Linked DNA regions of Homo sapiens: regions 1 and 3 are each linked to region 2. The links come from fine-mapping of genetic effects on plasma protein levels. A gene starts in region 2. Each other region holds a variant in brackets. All regions are shown on one strand. Distances are between the middles of the regions.

Evidence for each region. PIP is the posterior inclusion probability: the model's chance that the variant is causal. Protein levels are from antibody-based Olink assays in UK Biobank. Linkage for the fine-mapping came from a reference panel and not from the study's own genotypes, which makes the PIPs less certain.
Region 1: its variant is fine-mapped to the plasma level of the KDR protein (UK Biobank, PIP above 0.99). The variant lies in the coding sequence of KDR. If it changes the protein, the assay may bind it differently, which can mimic a change of level.
Region 3: its variant is fine-mapped to the plasma level of the KDR protein (UK Biobank, PIP above 0.99).

Annotation. Positions count from the first base shown.
Region 1 is chr4:55,103,554-55,108,499 of GRCh38, reverse strand. KDR (kinase insert domain receptor) reads left to right here. Exons shown (of 30, transcript NM_002253.4): 10 at 607-763; 11 at 1,690-1,813; 12 at 2,560-2,668; 13 at 3,516-3,857. Among named protein-coding and RNA genes, the nearest start is that of KDR, 20 kb to the left of the region's middle. The variant G/A (reference allele first, on the strand shown) is at 2,638.
Region 2 is chr4:55,122,502-55,130,693 of GRCh38, reverse strand. It overlaps KDR (kinase insert domain receptor), which reads left to right and starts at 5,099. Exons shown (of 30, transcript NM_002253.4): 1 at 5,099-5,467. The coding sequence starts at 5,401.
Region 3 is chr4:55,094,559-55,102,756 of GRCh38, reverse strand. It overlaps KDR (kinase insert domain receptor), which reads left to right. Exons shown (of 30, transcript NM_002253.4): 14 at 249-395; 15 at 729-860; 16 at 3,954-4,060; 17 at 4,485-4,620; 18 at 4,991-5,095; 19 at 6,415-6,528; 20 at 7,092-7,180; 21 at 7,802-7,955. Among named protein-coding and RNA genes, the nearest start is that of KDR, 27 kb to the left of the region's middle. The variant C/T (reference allele first, on the strand shown) is at 2,165.

The DNA.
Region 1 (4,946 bases), 21 kb after region 2:
CGTATAAAGCTGTGGACAGTAATAGTGGTTGTGAGGATTAAGTGAATGAATTCATGCAAAGCACTTCAAACAATGCTTGGCACATAATAAATGTATTTACTGTGCTATTTCAGCTGTTTTCTGTAGCCTTTCCCTGATCTCCTAAACTTGAGAGGACAGAGAGAACTATCTCTGTAATACAGATGAGAGGCACAGGATTTCAACACTTCCATAAAGTCATTCAGCTTGTTAGTTTATTATTATTATTAGCTTATTGTCATTTTTATTTTATTTCGTTACTTTATTCCTTTTTTTTTTTTTTGGTAGAGATGGGGTCTCACCATGTGGCCCAGGCTGGTCTTGATCTCCTGGGCTTAAGCGATCCACCTACCTTGGCGTCCCAAAATACTGAGATTACAGGCATAAGCCCCCATGCCTGGCTAGTTGTTATTTTTATGAGTATCACTAGAACTCAGGTCTCTTGTTTCCACATCTAGGTGTTCTTCGAAAAAGAAAGTGGAAGCAAAATCATATGCTTAAAGAAAGTCAGCTTTAGTTGCTAAAATCCTCTATTTCCCATTCTTCAAAGCTGACTGACAATTCAAAAGTTGTTTTTCCCATCTTCAGTCCCACCCCAGATTGGTGAGAAATCTCTAATCTCTCCTGTGGATTCCTACCAGTACGGCACCACTCAAACGCTGACATGTACGGTCTATGCCATTCCTCCCCCGCATCACATCCACTGGTATTGGCAGTTGGAGGAAGAGTGCGCCAACGAGCCCAGGTGAGTAAGGCCACATGCTCTTTGCTTTCCTGCCATCTTGCATTTCTTACAGCTGAGCTATGATATGACTCCATCCTAAATGGAGAAGCCTAAACCAAAAAAAGTTTTCTCTCAAGAGGTAGCCTGAATCTCCATCCATCTTTCTCTGTGTCTTACATTTTAGGGGATGTCTTTGCTTGGAGTATCCTCCTTTGGGGTTAGCTAAGCTCAGCCTTGTTAGGTTAGCCGTGAGGTACACTTCTCCAAACACAGGCTATTTGCTCAGTTTGCTAATTGCCAGTCTTTGGTTTTTCTCCCGATACCAATCGGCTGGTGAATACCACATCCCTCCTTCTTGTGTGTGTGAAGATCCATCTCTCAGAGGAAATGCTGATAGATGAGAGGCAGTGATAGACCCAGCCCCAGTCCTCAGGGTCTCAGGCCCAGCTTATCATGCTCTGACACAAGTCCAGACATCCTTAGGGAAAAACACAACAACAGCAGCCAACCCACCACCACCCTAAGCAGTCCACTTCCTGTTGTTGTTTTTGAAATGGCCACTATGAGCTTCTTCCTCAGCTGCTGATCATTTCCTTCACAGAGACCATGGTCCCAGAGAAATTACTTTAAGGAGCCCAGTGGCTTCTAAGTTTCCTTGCCTTCCTTTGAACTAAATTAACTTGAATTGTCTTGTCGATCCAATTTATGAATGAAGGTTTATTCCCAGAATAGCTGCTTCCCTCCTGTATCCTGAATGAATCTACCTAGAACCTTTTCCTTCATTGTCAATGCCTATTTTTAATTGGCGCCAAGTCTTGTACCATGGTAGGCTGCGTTGGAAGTTATTTCTAAGAACAGAATAACCAAAGTCTGAATCTTTTCCTTACTCTTGACTCTAATTAAAGAAAAATTAAATCATAATATGCGCTGTTATCTCTTTCTTATAGCCAAGCTGTCTCAGTGACAAACCCATACCCTTGTGAAGAATGGAGAAGTGTGGAGGACTTCCAGGGAGGAAATAAAATTGAAGTTAATAAAAATCAATTTGCTCTAATTGAAGGAAAAAACAAAGTGAGTTTGAAGTTTTAAAATTTGAAAATCTCTCTCTCTTTAATGGAAGGATGGTACAATAATATGTGAGGCATATTGGAGATTAATAATCAAATAGTCTGGATGATTAAATAGAGCGTATTAAGTCACTTTGAAAATACCATTGACTTTTAGCAGTACCATTAACTTATTAATAGCTTATCAGAGAAAAATAAAAACATCTATGACATTAAATCTATGCATCTGTGTAGGGTGATTCTGATTTTATAAACATGAGAATGAAAAAATGTGTATCATATCATATTAAAACACATCATTAGTTTCATGGCTTCCAAAGCCCTTTTTATATAATGTGTGAGCTCCACAGCAGCATAATTATACAAATTGAGTAAATATCCCAAACCTAAAAACCCCAAATCCAAAATGCTCCAGATTCTGAACCTTTTTGAGTGCCGACATGGTGCTCAAAGGAAACGCTCGTTGGAGCATTTTGGATTTTCAGATTAGGGATGCTCAACTGGTAAGTATACAATGCAAATATTCCAAAATCCAAAAAAAAAAATCCAAAATCCAAACCACTTTTGGTCCCAAGCGTTTTGAGTAAGGGATACTCAACCTGCAATTGCATAAATTTGAGCGTGTCCAACCGCTGCAGAAGTGGGAATGGCATAGGCAGGTTGGAGTGATTGTGGAGACTGCTGGACTGAGTGCTTGTGCACAAACAGCCGCGTTGTTTATGGCCTGGGATTTGTTTTTTCCCCGCACAGACTGTAAGTACCCTTGTTATCCAAGCGGCAAATGTGTCAGCTTTGTACAAATGTGAAGCGGTCAACAAAGTCGGGAGA[G/A]GAGAGAGGGTGATCTCCTTCCACGTGACCAGTAAGTACTCTTCTCTGGAGGTTTGGGTTGGATCACTCACACAGTGGGTACTAAGCTATGTAATTCCCTGTTGTTTTTGCCATTCATGTGAGTGGCATGGCATTTAGGAAAGAGGACTTGGATTGATCATTGATGCTTTCATTCATAAATTACAACTTCTCAGGTATCTCCTGGGCTTATGTGAAGTCAGTGCGTCTAACTACACTGGAGAGAGAATGGTTTCACAGATGCTTTAAACCACAAGCTCTGTGTGGTATTTACATCTCAGTCTTCAGAGTCTGGCACAGTGCCTGGCTTATTGAGCTTCAGTACATATTGGTGGGCTTGCTGTGGAACAGTTGATGAGGGTGGGCTTTATGGAGGCAATCAGAAGGACATAGGAGCAGTGCCCTCCCAATGCTGCCGATTTTGCCTGTGCATCTTAGTTTTATGGATAAGCTTTAGCTGATTGTGCTGAATGGAATATTATAGCCAGGGCTAATTCATTGGCATAAATGTAGCTTTCATATCATTGAGTGTTAGTGTTAATGAAGACCTAATTTTAAAATTCTGTTAGAATTAGAGATTTTGCTTTGGATTTTTAATATATTAAACATTGCGTAGAGCTCATAGTGGAGATGTGGTAAATATCTGAGGAATTCGTTTACATTTTCAAGTAATGTGTTTGGCCAAATAAGATATTTTGGGACCTGAATTGTCTAGTTTGTTTGTCAAGTTGTAGTACATCACCTGGAACGGATAGAGCTTCATTTCTTTTGGTACTTTGTAGTAGTCTGAAAGCAGCAAGATGATAGTGAGCTGTACCAAGTTAAATCACCATTCAATAACTATGGCCTCTTCATTTTAGGGGGTCCTGAAATTACTTTGCAACCTGACATGCAGCCCACTGAGCAGGAGAGCGTGTCTTTGTGGTGCACTGCAGACAGATCTACGTTTGAGAACCTCACATGGTACAAGCTTGGCCCACAGCCTCTGCCAATCCATGTGGGAGAGTTGCCCACACCTGTTTGCAAGAACTTGGATACTCTTTGGAAATTGAATGCCACCATGTTCTCTAATAGCACAAATGACATTTTGATCATGGAGCTTAAGAATGCATCCTTGCAGGACCAAGGAGACTATGTCTGCCTTGCTCAAGACAGGAAGACCAAGAAAAGACATTGCGTGGTCAGGCAGCTCACAGTCCTAGGTAGGGAGACAATTCTGGATCATTGTGCAGAGGCAGTTGGAATGCCTTAAATGTAGTGCAATTCAGGTGCTATGCAAAGATTACTGTCCTCTAGGAGATTATGTTGTAAACTGGTGCACACTTCTTCACCGAAAGTCCTTGAGGAAGAAAGAAGCTAATAATAATGAAATGATATATCGAAAGGAGAAAATAACAAAACCTGATGATGGAGTAATTCACTAGTATATGCAAGGGATATTAGCTTGAACCAGGGAAACTTCTGCCTTATCTTGGGCATCCATTTATTTAAATAGACAAATATTTGTGGAATGCCTGCTATGAGCTAGGAGAGTGTCAGAAATTCACAGTGGTAAACATGAAGGAAAGGAGGAGAACATAGGCAACCACTGGGAAGTCACAGCACAGTGAGGTCTCTGTGTCCATGAGAACAGGAATTGTTCTCTGTTTTGCTCCCTGCTATAGCTCTAGTCATAGAGCATAGCAGCATATACTAACTGCTCAATAAGGCACCTGCTGCATGAAGAGTGGGATGATGGGCTGCGTTTAAGACCTAGAAGACTCCATGGGAAGGAAGCTACATTCACTGTCTGTACCTCTGGGTCATCCCACATGATCCAGCGTAGCCCAAGGTCAATGGGACGATCACTTCAGTGAGCAGATAGCTCTGTAAATTCCTCCATAGAGGCACTGTCTACCCCTTGTCTAACCTCATGCCTTGTGCAAAAGCTGGGCAGCCATGGCTTTGTCTGTGGGAAAATCAGGCAAATTTGGGGAGCGTCTCTTTGTGCCACTTCTCTCCATTTTCTCCTCTTGTGGTGTCCCTTTCCAATTCCTAGGATATATGTGCCCTCTGTTTTTTTTTTACTGTTAGGAAGGAAATTGCCCAAGTAAATTCATCTATACCACAGTTTTAGAGGGTAACGTCTTCATCAGAGGCCTTGGCGTATTTGAAGAGGCACCTTCTGACAGACACTAGCATAAAGTTCGCTAGTTTTAAGACTCAGGTGTCATAATAAGAGATACTTTGGGGTCAAGTCATCCCCAGCATCCTTCAAGTCACACCACATAGATCACATGGATTTTCTGTTG
Region 2 (8,192 bases):
GTAACAGTCCTTAAGGTAGGTAAGAATTATTATTTTCATTGACAAATGATGAAGCTGCTGCCTGAAATGATTAAAAGATAATGCTCAAGGACATTCCAAATCCTTATTTTCACCAAATCAAGGAAAAGACAATGGAAAAGTTAGTGTTGTATTGGCCTGGGCATCCCTTTGATTACAGTCATTTAAAACAGATTTTTTTTTTTTTAATCATGGAAACTTTCAAACACGTAAAAGTAGAGAGAATAGTCAAATGAATCTTTAAGTACCACTGTTCAACTTCCACAGTTATTTTTTTTAATTTTTTTAAAATTATACTTTAAGTTCTAGGTTTAATGTGCAGGTTTGTTACATATGTATATATGTGCCATGTTGGTGTGCTGTACCCATTAACTCGTCATTTACATTAGGTATATCCCCTACTGCTATCCCTCCCCCCTCCCCCCACCCCACAACAGGCCCAGGAGTGTGATGTTCCCCTTCCTGTGTCCATGTGTTCTCATTGTTCAGTTCCCACCTATGAGTGAGAACATGTGGTGTTTGGTTTTTTGTCCTTGCGATAGTTTGCTGAGAATGATGGTTTCCAGCTTCATCCATGTCCCTACAAAAGACATGAACTCATCCTTTTTTATGGCTGCATAGTATTCCATGGTGTATATGTGCCACATTTTCTTAATCCAGTCTATCATTGATGGATATTTGGGTTGGTTCCAAGTCTTTGCTATTGTGAATAGTGCCGCAATAAACATACATGTGCATGTGTCTTTATAGCAGCATGATTTATAATCCTTTGGGTATATACCCAGTAATGGGATGGCTGGGTCAAATGGTATTTCTAGTTTAGATCCCTGAGGAATTGCCACACTGTCTTCCACAATGGTTGAACTAGTTTACAGTCCCACCAACAGTGTGAAAGTGTTCCTATTTCTCCACATGCTCTCTAGCACCTGTTGTTTCCTGACTTTTTAATGATTGCCATTCTAACTGGTGTGAGATGCTATCTCATTGTGGTTTTGATTTGCATTTCTCTGATGACCAGTGATGATGAGCATTTTCTCATGTGTCTGTTGGCTGCATAAATGTCTTCTTTTGAGAAGTGTCTGTTCATGTCCTTTGCCCACTTTTTGATGCGATTGTTTGTTTTTTTCTTGTAAATTTGTTTGAGTTCTTTGCAGATTCTGGATATTAGCCCTTTGTCAGATGAGTAGATTGCAAAAATTTTCTCCCATTCTGTAGGTTGTCTGTTCACTCTGATGGTAGTTTCTTTTGCTGTGCAGAAGCTCTTTAGTTTAATGAGATCCCATTTGTCAATTTTGGCTTTTGTTGCCATTGCTTTTGGTGTTTTAGTCATGAAGTCCTTGCCCATGCCTATGTCCTGAATGGTATTGCCTAGGTTTTCTTCTAGGGTTTTTATGGTTTTAGGTCTGACATTTAAGTCTTTAATCCATCTTGAATTAATTTTTGTATAAGGTGTAAGGAAGGGATCCAGTTTCAGCTTTCTACATATGGCTAGCCAGTTTTCCCAGCACCATTTATTAAATAGGGAATCCTTTCCCCATTGCTTGTTTCTGTCAGGTTTGTTGAAGATCAGATGGTTGTAGATGTGTGGTATTATTTCTGAGGGTTCTGTTCTGTTCCATTGGTCTATATCTCTGTTTTGGTACCAGTACCATGCTGTTTTGGTTACTGTAGCCTTGTAGTATAGTTTGAAGTCAGGTAGCATGATGCCTCCAGCTTTGTTCTTTTGGCTTAGATTTGTCTTGGCAATTCAGGCTCTTTTTTGGTTCCATATGAACTTTAAAGTAGTTTTTTCCAATTCTGTGAAGAAAGTCATTGGTAGCTTGATGGGGATGGTATTGAATCTACAAATTACCTTGGGCAGTATGGCCATTTTCACGATATTGATTCTTCCTATCCATGAACATGGAATGTTCTTCCATTTGTTTGTGTCCTCTTTTATTTCATTGAGCAATGGTTTGTAGTTCTTCTTGAAGAGGTCCTTCACATCCCCTGTAAGTTGGATTCCTGGGTATTTTATTCTCTTTGAAGCAATTGAACTTCCACAGTTATTAACCTTTGACAAATCTTCATATAACTTGTTAAGACATGGAGTCCAAAATACTGTTGGTAATGTAACCAAATTTGGAGATCATGGAGAGTAATTTATGCAGTGTGCTTTGAGTATGAACAATGTATATTCTGTATGTACAAGCCCAGAAAAGTAGCTGGAGACAAGAAGTGCTTAAAGATTAAATTAAATTTGTCTTGGGTGAGGCTATTACAATGATTCCTCATTTAAGCTCATCTTGACATTATTTTCACCATCGTAACCCCAGTTCCTGGTTCAATGCCTAGCATATAGTAGGTGCTCAAAAACTGTTGAATGAATGAGCCTGCTTAGCAGTTTAGATCTCAGCAGCATGAAGAAGCCCATGCATTGTAGTATAAGCAACCTTTGCAGAATGTTTCTTAATGTGTATCTGGTGCTTTCTATGTCCAAGATCTTTACTAGCTGTGTTGGGGCCTACTCCAAGTGCCTTACATGCAGTAACTCCTTTAATTCTTGTAAGAACCCTATGAAGAAGGTACTATTATAATTTTTTTTGTGTTTCATAGATAAGTTACTTGTAAGTTGGTAAAGATCACACAGATCATAAGCGGTAGATCTGGGAATAAAATCCAGAGTCTGTGCACTTAGCTACTACTCTGCTGTGGCATCTGAATAGCATCTATGGAACACTCAACACATTTGGGGCACTTTGCTAGGTGCCTTACTGTTGGGTTAACTCACAAAAGTCACTCCTTTGCAATGCCAGATAACGAGAGGGTGCTGCACATGGAACAGCCTTTCTTTCTTTCTTTTCTATCTTTTTTTTTTTTAACAGACTTTGCCATTTTTTTTGTGAACCTAAGGCACTTCTAAGTGCTGTGTGGGAGGGAATGTGGTAGACTGATTTCATTGAGACTCTGCCAAATTCTGGTCTTGCGGCCATCAAAGACGCATCATTTCCTCCAAGACTTCTAAAGGGGGCTATTACCACGGGCCTGCAGGTTCTGGTTTGCATTCAGAGGAGACACTATCTTCTTAAATGAGACATGGAAGAGGAAGTGTCATGAACTGTAAATAAGGCTGATAGGGAATTGTTTGGTGATGGGGATGGAGAAAAACTGCCCTCTCCAAACCAGGTTCCATCTCCCACCCCTTTATCCAACTTTGCCAGAGTCCATCCTATTTTATTTGCTGAGTTTACTAGCAGGAAGAGAGGAGTTTCTTTAAAGATTCTCTCCCCTCCCCAAATAAATACCTCCCAGATAAATATGAGTACATCTATATAGTAGAGCACTATGCCAACATTGAAAAGATGGAAGGATGGAGCTTTGTTCGCAGCCAGCTTAGGCAACATAGTGAGACCCTGCCTCTATATAAAAATAAATAAATAAATAAATAAATAAATAAATAAATAAAAGATGGAGCTTTAAAGGTTGATGTAGAACGAATCTCCAGTGTATATTATAAAGTGAAGGCTGGGCAGGGTGGCTCGTGCTTGTAATCCCAGCACTTTGGGAGACTGAGGCAGGAGGATGGACTGAGTCCAGGCATTGGAGACCAGCCTGGGCAACATAGTGAGACCTTGTCTCAAATAAATAAATCAAATTTAAAGGGAAAAAAGCCAAGGCTCAAATAGCATTTATACCAAGCAATTGTGGGAAGAGAAGGGTGACATGTCTACATACTTGTGTTTAAGAATCTGCTTGGAAAAAAAAGGAAACATAAAAATGCCTCTGCCAAAAGAAAAGTCTTTTCACTCTAAGCCTTTTTGTGTTTTTCCAAAATTTTTTTTTGCCATATACATTCATTATATTTCAGCATTAAAATATTTCACCTGTCAACTTGGAAAAGTAAAAGCGTGAATACAGTAAATATTTAAAAACAGATGAAGATAAGTAACAGGTTACATTAATTGTATACAATCAATCTAGTTTGAATTAGGTGTAGATATAATAATTCTGTGTGTTTATCTTGGTGAAGAATGGTCCTTTAGGTTGTCATTAAAAAGCACCTCTGGGAGGTAAAAGACATAGGCATCTGGAAGATTCATATTTAATGAAGTTAGGGGACATTTGATGTCACTCCCCAGGTGTGGGGAGATATGGACAGAAAACCAGAAGGAACGAATGTGGTCAGGAAGGAATTGGAGTTCCCCTCCAAACAGCTGCCACAAGAAGTCCACACACGTGGAGACAGTTGTGCAATTTGGTCACAGAGTGTCCTAGGTGCTTTTGCTTCATTGCTCCTCCACTGAAGCACGCTGGCAGCTGGCCTCCTTCCCCTGGGACTAAGGATATCTTGGCTGGAAGCTCTGCTCTGAAAAGGGGCATGGCCAAACTTTCACTAGGGCTCTTCGTTGGGGAGCACGATGGACAAAAGCCTTCTTGGGGCTAGGCAGGTCACTTCAAACTTGGAGCCGCCAAATATTTTGGGAAATAGCGGGAATGTTGGCGAACTGGGCAAGTGCGTTTTCTGATTAAGAGCAACCAGATTCAGCTTTTTAAACTACAATTATACTGGCCAAACAAAATACCCTTATACAAAAACCAAAACTACTGGCAGGAGTCGCTGCCAGCTTGCGACCCGGCATACTTGGCTGAGTATCCGCTTCTCCCTTGTGGCTCCAAACTGCTGCAGATTCTCGGCCACTTCAGACGCGCGCGATGGCGAAGAGGGTCCTGCACTTTGACGCGCCTGGTGAGGGAGCGCTGCTCTTCGCAGCGCTCCTGGTGATGCTCCCCAAATTTCGGGGACCGGCAAGCGATTAAATCTTGGAGTTGCTCAGCGCCCGTTACCGAGTACTTTTTATTTACACCAGAAACAAAGTTGTTGCTCTGGGATGTTCTCTCCTGGGCGACTTGGGGCCCAGCGCAGTCCAGTTGTGTGGGGAAATGGGGAGATGTAAATGGGCTTGGGGAGCTGGAGATCGCCGCCGGGTACCCGGGTGAGGGGCGGGGCTGGCCGCACGGGAGAGCCCCTCCTCCGCTCCGGCCCCGCCCCGCATGGCCCCGCCTCCGCGCTCTAGAGTTTCGGCACCAGCTCCCACCCTGCACTGAGTCCCGGGACCCCGGGAGAGCGGTCAATGTGTGGTCGCTGCGTTTCCTCTGCCTGCGCCGGGCATCACTTGCGCGCCGCAGAAAGTCCGTCTGGCAGCCTGGATATCCTCTCCTACCGGCACCCGCAGACGCCCCTGCAGCCGCGGTCGGCGCCCGGGCTCCCTAGCCCTGTGCGCTCAACTGTCCTGCGCTGCGGGGTGCCGCGAGTTCCACCTCCGCGCCTCCTTCTCTAGACAGGCGCTGGGAGAAAGAACCGGCTCCCGAGTTCTGGGCATTTCGCCCGGCTCGAGGTGCAGGATGCAGAGCAAGGTGCTGCTGGCCGTCGCCCTGTGGCTCTGCGTGGAGACCCGGGCCGCCTCTGTGGGTAAGGAGCCCACTCTGGAGGAGGAAGGCAGACAGGTCGGGTGAGGGCGGAGAGGACCTGAAAGCCAGATCTAACTCGGAATCGTAGAGCTGGAGAGTTGGACAGGACTTGACATTTTGCGATCTTTCATTTACCAGTGGGGAAACTGAGGCTCAGAGACTGGCCCAAGATTACCCAGCGAGTCTGTGGTCGCCTGTGCTCTAGCCCAGTTCCTTTTCTAGGACTCTGGTTTGCGACAGGGACCTCGGCTGGAGCATGTCCTGAGATGCCGACACACCCTCAGGCTCTTGGGAGGCTGGGGTGGGAAGGCGCCTGGGGTTGGCAGGCAGGAGGTGCCTCCGCAGGCGAGAACAGGCGGTGAAAAGTTGTCTGGCTGCGCGCAACATCCTAGTCCGGGCCCGGGGAAGAAAACCTTGCCGGAATCTCAGGCCGGGTCTCCCGGATCGGACGGTACACTCGGTTCTGCCTCTTTGCGGGACCCGGCCCGTTGTTGTCTTCATGCTCGAACACACTTGCACACCACTGTGTGAAGTGGGGTCTGGAGCGGAGAGAAACTTTTTTTCCTTCCTTGGTGCAGGACGCCGCTCTCCTTGCAGAGCGAAGAAGGGGGGGAATAGGGACTTGTCCTGGGGGCTTTGACAGCTTCCCCAAGGGTCTCCAAGTAACAGCCAACTGTCCTGCGTAAAGCATTGCACATCTTTCAAAGCGCTGTGGTCCTTGGTGTAAGCGCATAGTCAGAAGTTCAAGCTCCGAAAACCTTTCCTGTGGGCCTTGGTACCTAGCTTTAGTGCCATTCCTTCCTCTCCCTGCCGCCTAAAATTTCCGTCTCCTTCAATTAGGAACACACACGTTCTTCATGCAATAGCTGTCTGTCTTTTCTTCCTCACTTTCCTTTCTCTCTCAACCCCTTAGATAATATTTCTTTCCTGCAGCCAGTTTGCTGATATCCAGATTTCCACCCTTTGCAGGGTGAGAAAGGGGAAAGGGTCAGAGAAAGAAAAAAAAAAAGTCGAATAATTCAGGGAAAAAAATTTCTTACTCCCTAAGACAAGAATCACATGTCTTAGAAGACACTCACACCCACATACAGTACCAGGATCATCTGTCCATGGTTACTGAATTTTCTTTATAATGACTTGGTTCAACGGGTCCAGTCCACCATGGACACTCATTTGTCCCAGACAAGCCCTCTCTCTCCCCCTTTCTGGGCAGAGAATGAAGGTCTGGAACATGTGGTTGCTCTGTATTCCACAAAGAAGTGAGTTGCTTTTAAGCCTGGGGTGTTTCCTAGCGTAGTAGTAACGGCAGGCCGGTCGCCCTGAATATAATGGTGAACTTGCCCTTTTGGAGTGCATTACTTGCTTAATTGGATTGGGCTGTAATTGGTGCCATCAAATTCTAGAGACAGAGGCACTGTTGTTTTTCCTTCCCGTCTTTGAGCTGGAAGGGTAACAGTGCACAAATTAATTAATATTGGTTATGGGATTTGAACATAGAAGGGCTTTTTATTGAGTAGTAGCATGTGTACCTCTTACAGTTATTTCTTTAGAACTTTCTGAAGAGTCCAGCTCAAGCTTGCCAATGAAAACGAATGACATTTAATGGAGCAAAAACAAAAAACAAAAAACTATGTTGGTCTACAAATATGAATTTGAAGTTATTGAGAGCCTTGTTGAATAGATTTTTGTTGTAAACGTGTCTCTAGAATAGTATGGCATAGTCTCAGCTTCCTATGAATGAAGGACATACCTTTTCTTTTTTAAAATATTTGTTACACAGGAAAGTGTGTCTAGAATGTGATCTGTGGCAATAAATTATGAGAGACCTTCAAGAGTTTCTGATTTTGGTAGCCGAGTGGGCACAGTTTATTGAGAATCATTTTTACTGCCATTTGTTTTCTCACAAGAATGTGCCCAAATAATGGTTTTTTTCTCATTTGGATGGCAGTGTGAATTGTACATCATGTTTTCAGCATCTTTCTCAACCTAGTGTTCCCCAGTCAAGTTTGAAATCTGTGTTATCCAAATGAATTGTTTTCATTTTCCTTTTCTTAGACAAAGTGGGACTCCAGGTTTCATTTTGCTTTTAAACATTTTGGTTTTTTGTTTGCCTGTTTTGGGGGCAGTTATTTCTTTCATATTAAAAAGTACTGTGCAGGCTGGGTGCAGTGGCTCATTCCTGTAATCCCAGCACTTAGGGAAGCAGAGGCAGGAGGATCGCTTGAGTCCAGGAGTTCAAGAAGTGCCTGGGCAACATAGCGAGACCCCATTCTCTATTTAAAACATAAATGTAACCCCCGTTCCACGCACAAAGTACTGTGCAAATTAATTAAACATGACCACCCAGACCAGCAACTGTCCAAGAGTGGCCCATAGACCATCTGTGGTAGGATAATTTGAAATGCTTGTTAAAATGCAGATTTGTAGACCCAGGGATATTCTGACAGAGTCTAAAGTCTTAAGAACAAAACTGTTCTAAACATAAGTCAGTACCAATGCCAGTTAATTTCTGAGATATATTGATATAACTTAGTTTCCAGTTTTTTAAAAACCATATTATTGACTTAAAAACCATGATATTGACCAGTTATGTCAGTAACTTATTTTGCACATCTGTGTGGTGTGTGAGAACATGTGCAGTCACTTATTCATTTTGCCTGCATTTGTTCATATTGGGATCCTCAGATTCAATGCACTGGATGTTTGCACTGGGTATTTACTTATAC
Region 3 (8,198 bases), 28 kb after region 2:
CCTTTCTTTTGTGATGGGATTACCAGCTAGTATCACTAATATGAATGTTAAAAGCCATTAATCTGTTTGCAGTGTCCTGACTGACTTGTTTCATTTAACTTTACCCAGTGACCAGTGTATTTTCCCAGAAGTTAATATATCAACAAGTTCCTTTTTACTAAATTTAAACTGTTTAAAAGTTTGCTGATACCAGAACCATTTCAAAAGTTATAATTCCATGTTCTGTGATTTTCTTTTTGTGTGTCTAGAGCGTGTGGCACCCACGATCACAGGAAACCTGGAGAATCAGACGACAAGTATTGGGGAAAGCATCGAAGTCTCATGCACGGCATCTGGGAATCCCCCTCCACAGATCATGTGGTTTAAAGATAATGAGACCCTTGTAGAAGACTCAGGTAAATAGAATTTGGCTATCACTCTTGGGTTGCAGAACTTTCCCAGGGATGTTATCTAAAAAGCCATATTATTTCTTGATGTAATGTAGAAAAAAAGCAGTATTGGTGTCCATGACCTGGCTCATTTCACAGACTTAGAATTGGAGTATGGGGCCCTGTTGAATTTTCATGAAAGCCATATAGGAGATTAGTCAGCAGTAGATCCCATGTGACTCTACAGAGTTAGATAATAGAACAAGATGAAGGGCAGCATTTATATTTTCTAAATTTCCCTGAAAAACTTCACAGACTACATCATCATAAATGAGAATGATCGTTTTCTTCCTCTGTTAGGCATTGTATTGAAGGATGGGAACCGGAACCTCACTATCCGCAGAGTGAGGAAGGAGGACGAAGGCCTCTACACCTGCCAGGCATGCAGTGTTCTTGGCTGTGCAAAAGTGGAGGCATTTTTCATAATAGAAGGTCAGTGGGATAAAAAAAAATGTGGTACATATACACCATGGAATGCTATGCAGCCGTAAAAAGGAATCTGATCATGTCCTTTGCAGCTGCATGGATGGAGCTGGAAGCCATTATCCTCAGCAAACTAACACAGGAACAGAAAACCAAACGCCACACATTCTCACTTATAAGTGGGAGCTGAACAATGTGAACACATAGACACAGGGAAGGGAACAACACACACTGGGGCCTACTGTGGGTTGGGGAGAAGGAGAGCATCAGGAAAAATAGCTAATGCATGCTGGGCTTAATACCTAGGAGATGGATTAATAGGTGCAGCAAATCACCATGGCACATGTTTACCTGTGTAACAAACCTGAGCATTCTGCACATGTATCCCGGAACTTAAAAGAAAAAAAGAAGGTCAGTGGGAAGTCATAGATACATCCTGTGGTTTTTGAAGATTAGTTTGTATCTTATAGACACACATTCACTTTGAATAGGGCAACGACAGATGATTTTTAATATTCTTTGTACTTTGTAAATTTTCTCAGTGAGTATGTATTCTTTTAACCAGCAAACATAATTAATGTTGTTATAATTCTGCTTGCATCACATTTCCTATTCCTGCAGTTCTTATTGTGGAAAAATTCTTAATCAGGCAGGATGAATAGCCTCTTCTCCCTGATTCTGTCTTTGTTTGAATGGCTTGATTAACTTATAGAAATGATGCCTTTATATTTATTTGGAAAAACATTAGAATTGCTGCCTAATCATGGCAGTCAATGCTATCCAGATAGTCACAAGGATTCCGAGTTTTAATTGGACTAGAGATAATTAAGATTCACTTGTGAACAATAGACCATTGCTCTTCTGACATGGAAAATTTTTGGTTTTTATCTCAATACGTGTGTATGCAGAAGTGATGTGAAATCTGTCATTTTCTTAGCTAGGAAAAGTAATTTGTGGCAGAATATTTTATCTTAAGAAGTATATTCCTATGGCTTTTTTTTTTATAGCCCACCAGGGAAAGAATAAAACTGTGTTGTGGGGTAAAAGAATGGTATGCAAGGGTAAGAAAGAAGTATGGTGATAGAAGGGATCGATGGATTTCTATGAACTCATCCTAACTTGTCTCTCAAAGTCTAGATTTTGGTCCCTTTACTCTGCCAAATCTATGATGCCAAGTATTGCATCGAGATATGTTGACATATTTTCAAATGTATAAGCTTATTAGCATTTCATAAACTACACTTGCAAATAAAGATTTCAAAGACCATGGCGGTTTTGTCATTTCCAAAGTGATTCATGTTTTAGGGCAAATC[C/T]GCAGAATGACGTCTAGATTGTCTCTGATGCTCTGCATTACCTCTTGTTGGTGGCCTGCAGCTGGTTACAGATGCCTAACTAGGTAACACTGGCACAGAGATTATAGTTACTTCTTACCTGGAGTGAATGCTAAGAAAGGCAGAGCTAGATATTTAATACTCCTGCTGGGTTCCCAAATGTTATGCGAGAATATTAATATACAAACACATAGAAAACAGACTCTTTGAACTTTTTATCCTCTATGTTCAACTGGACTTTTAAATCTGTGTGTATAAATAGAGAATTACTTCCCTAGGACCACCAGAGAAACAAAATTTACTCCAAGCATAATTGTGCTTGTCTCTCAATGGTTAAGTTAACTTTTATTTTGCAAACCAATTTGTTACTTATTTTGCAAACCAGTTTCTTACTTGTCTTCTTCTCTCTTGAGGCCGTAGTGGGCCATCCGCACAGCTTGTGGCCCGGTTTGATTCTCCTTGCACTCTTCTGATGGGAGGCCCCAAGTGATGACTGCTTCCTTATCATCTCTTTGCTAATCACTCTTAGTGGAAAGCCTGTTTCTGTATTTTGTTTCTTCCACTCAGAGCTGTCCTCTGAAGCCCTGAGCATCTGCAGCTTTGCTTGCTGACTTCTAGTTTCCTCTTCTCTTTCCTTTCATGAGTGATTTGAAACTCCCATTACCAGGCCATGCGTGATGTGCTCATCTTGGCTCTTCCTCTTCTCCTCACTCAGACTCCTGCCACAAGGGATGGGGTAGTGTATGTAATGGTTAGTTCATGTTGGACAGGCCTCTTTATCTCTTGACTGAACCACTGACTAGCTGTGTGCCCTCAGTCAAGTAGCTTAAGCTCTCTGGTCTTCTGTTTCTTCATCTGAAAACTGAGAGTTGTTGAGGAGATTAAGTGGAATGGCATATTTAAAGTGATGAGTGCATAGTAGATACATGGTCATTAGTAACTCTCAGGTCAAAAAATTTTGTTTATTTCCCTACTTGGTTTCTTATGTGATCCTTTTGCAAACTCTGCACAGATCAAAATATTGACTATCAGTTTAAAAGAAGACTTTTGTTTTCCTCAAATAGAAATATTTTTTTTTCTCTGTAGAGAATGATCTGTTTTCTTTCCATCAAAGACTGCTCTTCCTCTAAACACTTTCTATGTTTGGCTTTTAAGACATTACTACTTCTATGCTTAATTACTTAAGAATTTTATTGTTGTAAGTTTACATGAGCAATGTTTTGCAAGCTTTAAATTTTCCATTAACAATTCTGTAGGCCAGGTGTGGTGGCTTATGCCTGTAATCCCTGCACTTTGGGAGGCCAAGGCAGGGGGGATGGCTAGAGGCCAGGAGTTCGAGACTAGCCTGGGCAATGTAGTGAGACCCTGTCTCTACAGAAAATAAAAGAAAAATTAGCTGGGCTTGGTGGTATGCACCTGTAGTCCCAGCTACTCGGGAGGCTGAGGGGGGAGAATCGCTTGAGCCTAGGAATTGGAGGCTGCAATAAGCTATGATTGTGTCATGGTACTCCAGCCTGGAACATAGAAAGAAACCCTGTCTCTAAAAATAAATAAATAAATAAATAAATAAATAAATAAATAAATAAATAAATTAAATTCAAAAAAAGAATTCTGTAGACTCCATTCAAGTTACGGGTGTGTAACTGTTGTCCTCTAGGATTTTTCCAAGTTGGTAAGCTTGGGATTTTGCTTTAGTGCTAAAATTTGTCATCTTACAAACAAAAAGTATAAGTTTCCAACTGTTGATACTCATTCAATTGTGTCTTTCCAGGTGCCCAGGAAAAGACGAACTTGGAAATCATTATTCTAGTAGGCACGGCGGTGATTGCCATGTTCTTCTGGCTACTTCTTGTCATCATCCTACGGACCGTTAAGCGGGTAAAAAAATAATTTCCCTTCTGCCCATGCACATTGGTTTTCATGATTAATGAAAACTGACTGGGGTTCTTTGAGTTGTTTCTTCCCATTGTTATTGGCTCAATGGGCACATTTTTATTTCAATACAATAACGTTCCTGCCCACTTTCTTTTGGCTGGATCTCAGGGATTTAATTGATAGAAGCCACTAGAGAGGAAAAGGGCTTGGACTGTCTAGTGTAATTAAGCTTTAAAACCTTAATTCTGAGCTCCTTTGGGGGACAAGGGAAACTAGAAGCAGGGTTATAATAGGACCACTCTCAAACTCCATGAGTTTTATTGGAAAATGAGACAGGAATGAGGCTCCAATAAACAGCAATAACAAGCACACAAAACAACAGCCAAACAACAGTGTGTTTATGACTGGAAGGATTGATGCTTTCCAGGCCAATGGAGGGGAACTGAAGACAGGCTACTTGTCCATCGTCATGGATCCAGATGAACTCCCATTGGATGAACATTGTGAACGACTGCCTTATGATGCCAGCAAATGGGAATTCCCCAGAGACCGGCTGAAGCTAGGTGCATTTTCAATTGCTATTAATTTGATATTGTGTTTACCAGGCCATCTCTTCCTCCATTAGAATGATGACAAATGTGGTGTATTCAGATGTTGGATTCTGGTTTAGAAATATTAATTCCATTTCTTGAATTTGTATAATCATTCATATAGCCACTTAGAGGTAGGGTCCCTATGTAATCATCCAAAGCAGGACATTTGGAGAGTGAAGGGGGAGTTATTAAATAATTAAGCCAGGACAAAGGAGTAAACTGGACTATCCATGTTAAATTGGGATGTATGGTCACCCTATCTAGTTGATGTCTCTGCGTATCACTTTGGTTGTATAGTAATCCAAGTCTGTTTTCTTGTTGCTGTTGTTGTTGACTCTAGGTAAGCCTCTTGGCCGTGGTGCCTTTGGCCAAGTGATTGAAGCAGATGCCTTTGGAATTGACAAGACAGCAACTTGCAGGACAGTAGCAGTCAAAATGTTGAAAGGTAAAAGCAAAATTATGTGGTGATCTATCTTTCTGTTTTATCTAGTCTTTAAATATGTTGCAAGGCTTGTATCAGTAGCTTTGTGCTTATGTGGGCCTACTAGCCACACATGCAGTCAGCCTAAATAATGCCCTTGTGCAAATTGGAAAAAGGATCCTCCTTTGTAGCTTTATGCCAGGATGCATGGTCTGGCAAGCAAAGTTGGGAATGGCTTTCACCTTCTTGCCTGGTTACCCTCGTGCAGGGCTCAGCCAACACAGTTGTACTTAGTGGTTCTGGGTACAGGGAAAAAGGACTGTGGTTATATTAAAATTGTTTCTTAATATATTGTGGAATCAGATAATTATAGACCATCTAGAGACATGGAAAGGAAGATAGTGAAATACAAAAATAGCATGTTCTCCAGAATTGGAATATGTAAAAGATGTTCATATGTAAAAGATAATTTGCAAAACAAGAATGGTTGTGTTAGAAAAAAATATAATGGGTTATATTTTTTAAATTAAAAGCTTTATAAATAATTGTTAATTCTAATAGTAACGGAATTCTGGTCTGGCCATTTTCATTTTAGGAGGTTAGACAGTAAAGCTTCTTTCTTCAATTGTGATGTTCTTTCATTGATGAAGGCAGTGCCAATGACCCTTTGCCAATAGGTTTTGTGCATTTCAAAGCTATCTTTCTCCATCTGCCTTTTTTCTCTTGTGGCCAAGGGAGTGTGTAATTTTGAGGTGGCTCATCAGAGCCTTAGATGTGGACCATGCCTGTGAATTAGTGGGAAGTGTAGCAGTCCATACAGGATCAAACACATAGTCTTAGTGCCATCAGCCTCATGTGCCAACTGGTCTTTCCAGCTGGCCTTAATTCGCCTGCACAGATCGGCACAGATTGGCTGGAACATTCGGTATAGCCCCTAACACGTGAAGATATTTAATACATGGTGTTGCTTCCTTATGAGGAAGTGCTGAAATGATCAGACCCTCAGAATCATAGTGAACCTGAAATGCAAAAATCCAGTTTTGCAGAAGAAGAGAATCTGGGCATGATTCCACTGCAGATGTATTCTCCGCTTTGCAAAAGGTTTCACAATGGGTTCCTTTAAATATCAAACTTTCTGGCTCACTTAAAATATGAATTTTATTTCAAATTAGAAAATAGAATTTACACTTCACTTTTGAGGAAATGCATGTGGTCTGTAAACTAGGTCACAGCTGTGTTACCCCGGAGGGTAAGTTGTATAGTGGCATGCAGGGAGGGAGGGACCCCAATTATTGAAGGAAATGTCCATACCTATGATTTCCCTCTTTGTACTGTATTTGTAGAAGGAGCAACACACAGTGAGCATCGAGCTCTCATGTCTGAACTCAAGATCCTCATTCATATTGGTCACCATCTCAATGTGGTCAACCTTCTAGGTGCCTGTACCAAGCCAGGAGGTGAGTAACTGTGGGTGGTTTTGGTCACCCAATTTTAACATGCCTCTCTGATAGTGTTTGAGGGAAAGCAGTCAACTCCTCTGGCCTTGATTTTCTTAGCTTAGAATACTTTGCGGATTCCTAGGAATAAATATATTTCATGGAGGTTTAATTGGCACTAGAATTAAATTATTGTAAAACTTTCTCTGAATTAAGAAATGTCATGCTACTATGATACAGTTTGTTACTTGTGTAACAGATGTCCAGAGAAGAGTAAACTTCCCTAAAACTTGAAAGCTTAAGGGTAGTTACCCCCAAAATGGAATCATATCAGGAGATTGCACTGAAAAGCAAGTAGATGGGTGGGTTTTCTTCTGAAATTTTGGTTAATCTTGTGAAAATGTGTTCTGGAAAAAAGAAAAGCTACAATATAAGGGGATTGGGACCAGCTGATTTCTACACTCCTGTCCCAATGAAAGGTTGTAGCCTTCTTCTAAGGTGTTTTTGGGTTCATCACTATATTAAACGCTTAGTGAGGAATATGAGTGAAAACCCATTTTCCTTCCTGGACATGCTGCCTGCAGGGCCACTCATGGTGATTGTGGAATTCTGCAAATTTGGAAACCTGTCCACTTACCTGAGGAGCAAGAGAAATGAATTTGTCCCCTACAAGGTATGTCATCTCCTAATCCTGCTCTGGCCATGTTATAAAATGAAGGGAAACTCAAAATGGTACAGGTTAGTTTTTTAGTTGAAATTTTGTGAAGAACTTGTGAGGAATCTTCTCATATTACCTCTTGGCTGTTGTAACTTCCTCTTTTACCTTCTGGGGGCCATATGTTTCTGTTTTATGTATGTGATTTTAATCTACTGACCCATTACAGAGTGTGGACATGGGGGAGAAGGCAGGTATGAGCGAGGAAAGGGGAGGGCAGAGGGTAGGACATCTCTGGGTTATTCTGTCTCTCCCCTAGCCATATTTGGCCCCGTGGAGTGTAAATCCCTCTGTGAAGAGCATCCTAATGCTGAAAGTGTGTCTGAATGCAACTCAAAATGTGGCATTTGTCACTTTAAGCTAAAGAAGGAGCTAGGCTTTGTGGAAGAAACCCTATTATGCACAAAACTTGCCCCAAGTTTCAGCTCAGAGATTGCATAATCCTGAAATTGATGTCCTCCTTGTCTGCTTTTTAGTAGTTTCAATTATCTCCATGGTTTACTACATTTTAAAGGTTGTAAACTTTTAAAGACTCATTTTGTATTCAAGGAGTTTGTTTGTTCCTTTGCTTTTTTATAGACCAAAGGGGCACGATTCCGTCAAGGGAAAGACTACGTTGGAGCAATCCCTGTGGATCTGAAACGGCGCTTGGACAGCATCACCAGTAGCCAGAGCTCAGCCAGCTCTGGATTTGTGGAGGAGAAGTCCCTCAGTGATGTAGAAGAAGAGGAAGGTACTGGCTAGTGCTTCCTGCATGCTATGGCATGCTCTTGTCAGAGCAGACAGGGTGATAGGGTGTTACAAGGAATTTGATCATGGGAAAAGTCCAATACTACCTCATAATTTGAAAGAGACCTGAATTTCTATAATAGACTGCCTCCATTCTGTCTCCCCAAAAGTGAAGTGTGGAAGCCCTAGACTGGGAAGTGAAGCAGGGCTAGCCTGAGAAATCTGGGTAGTCCAAGTGGGCTAAGCA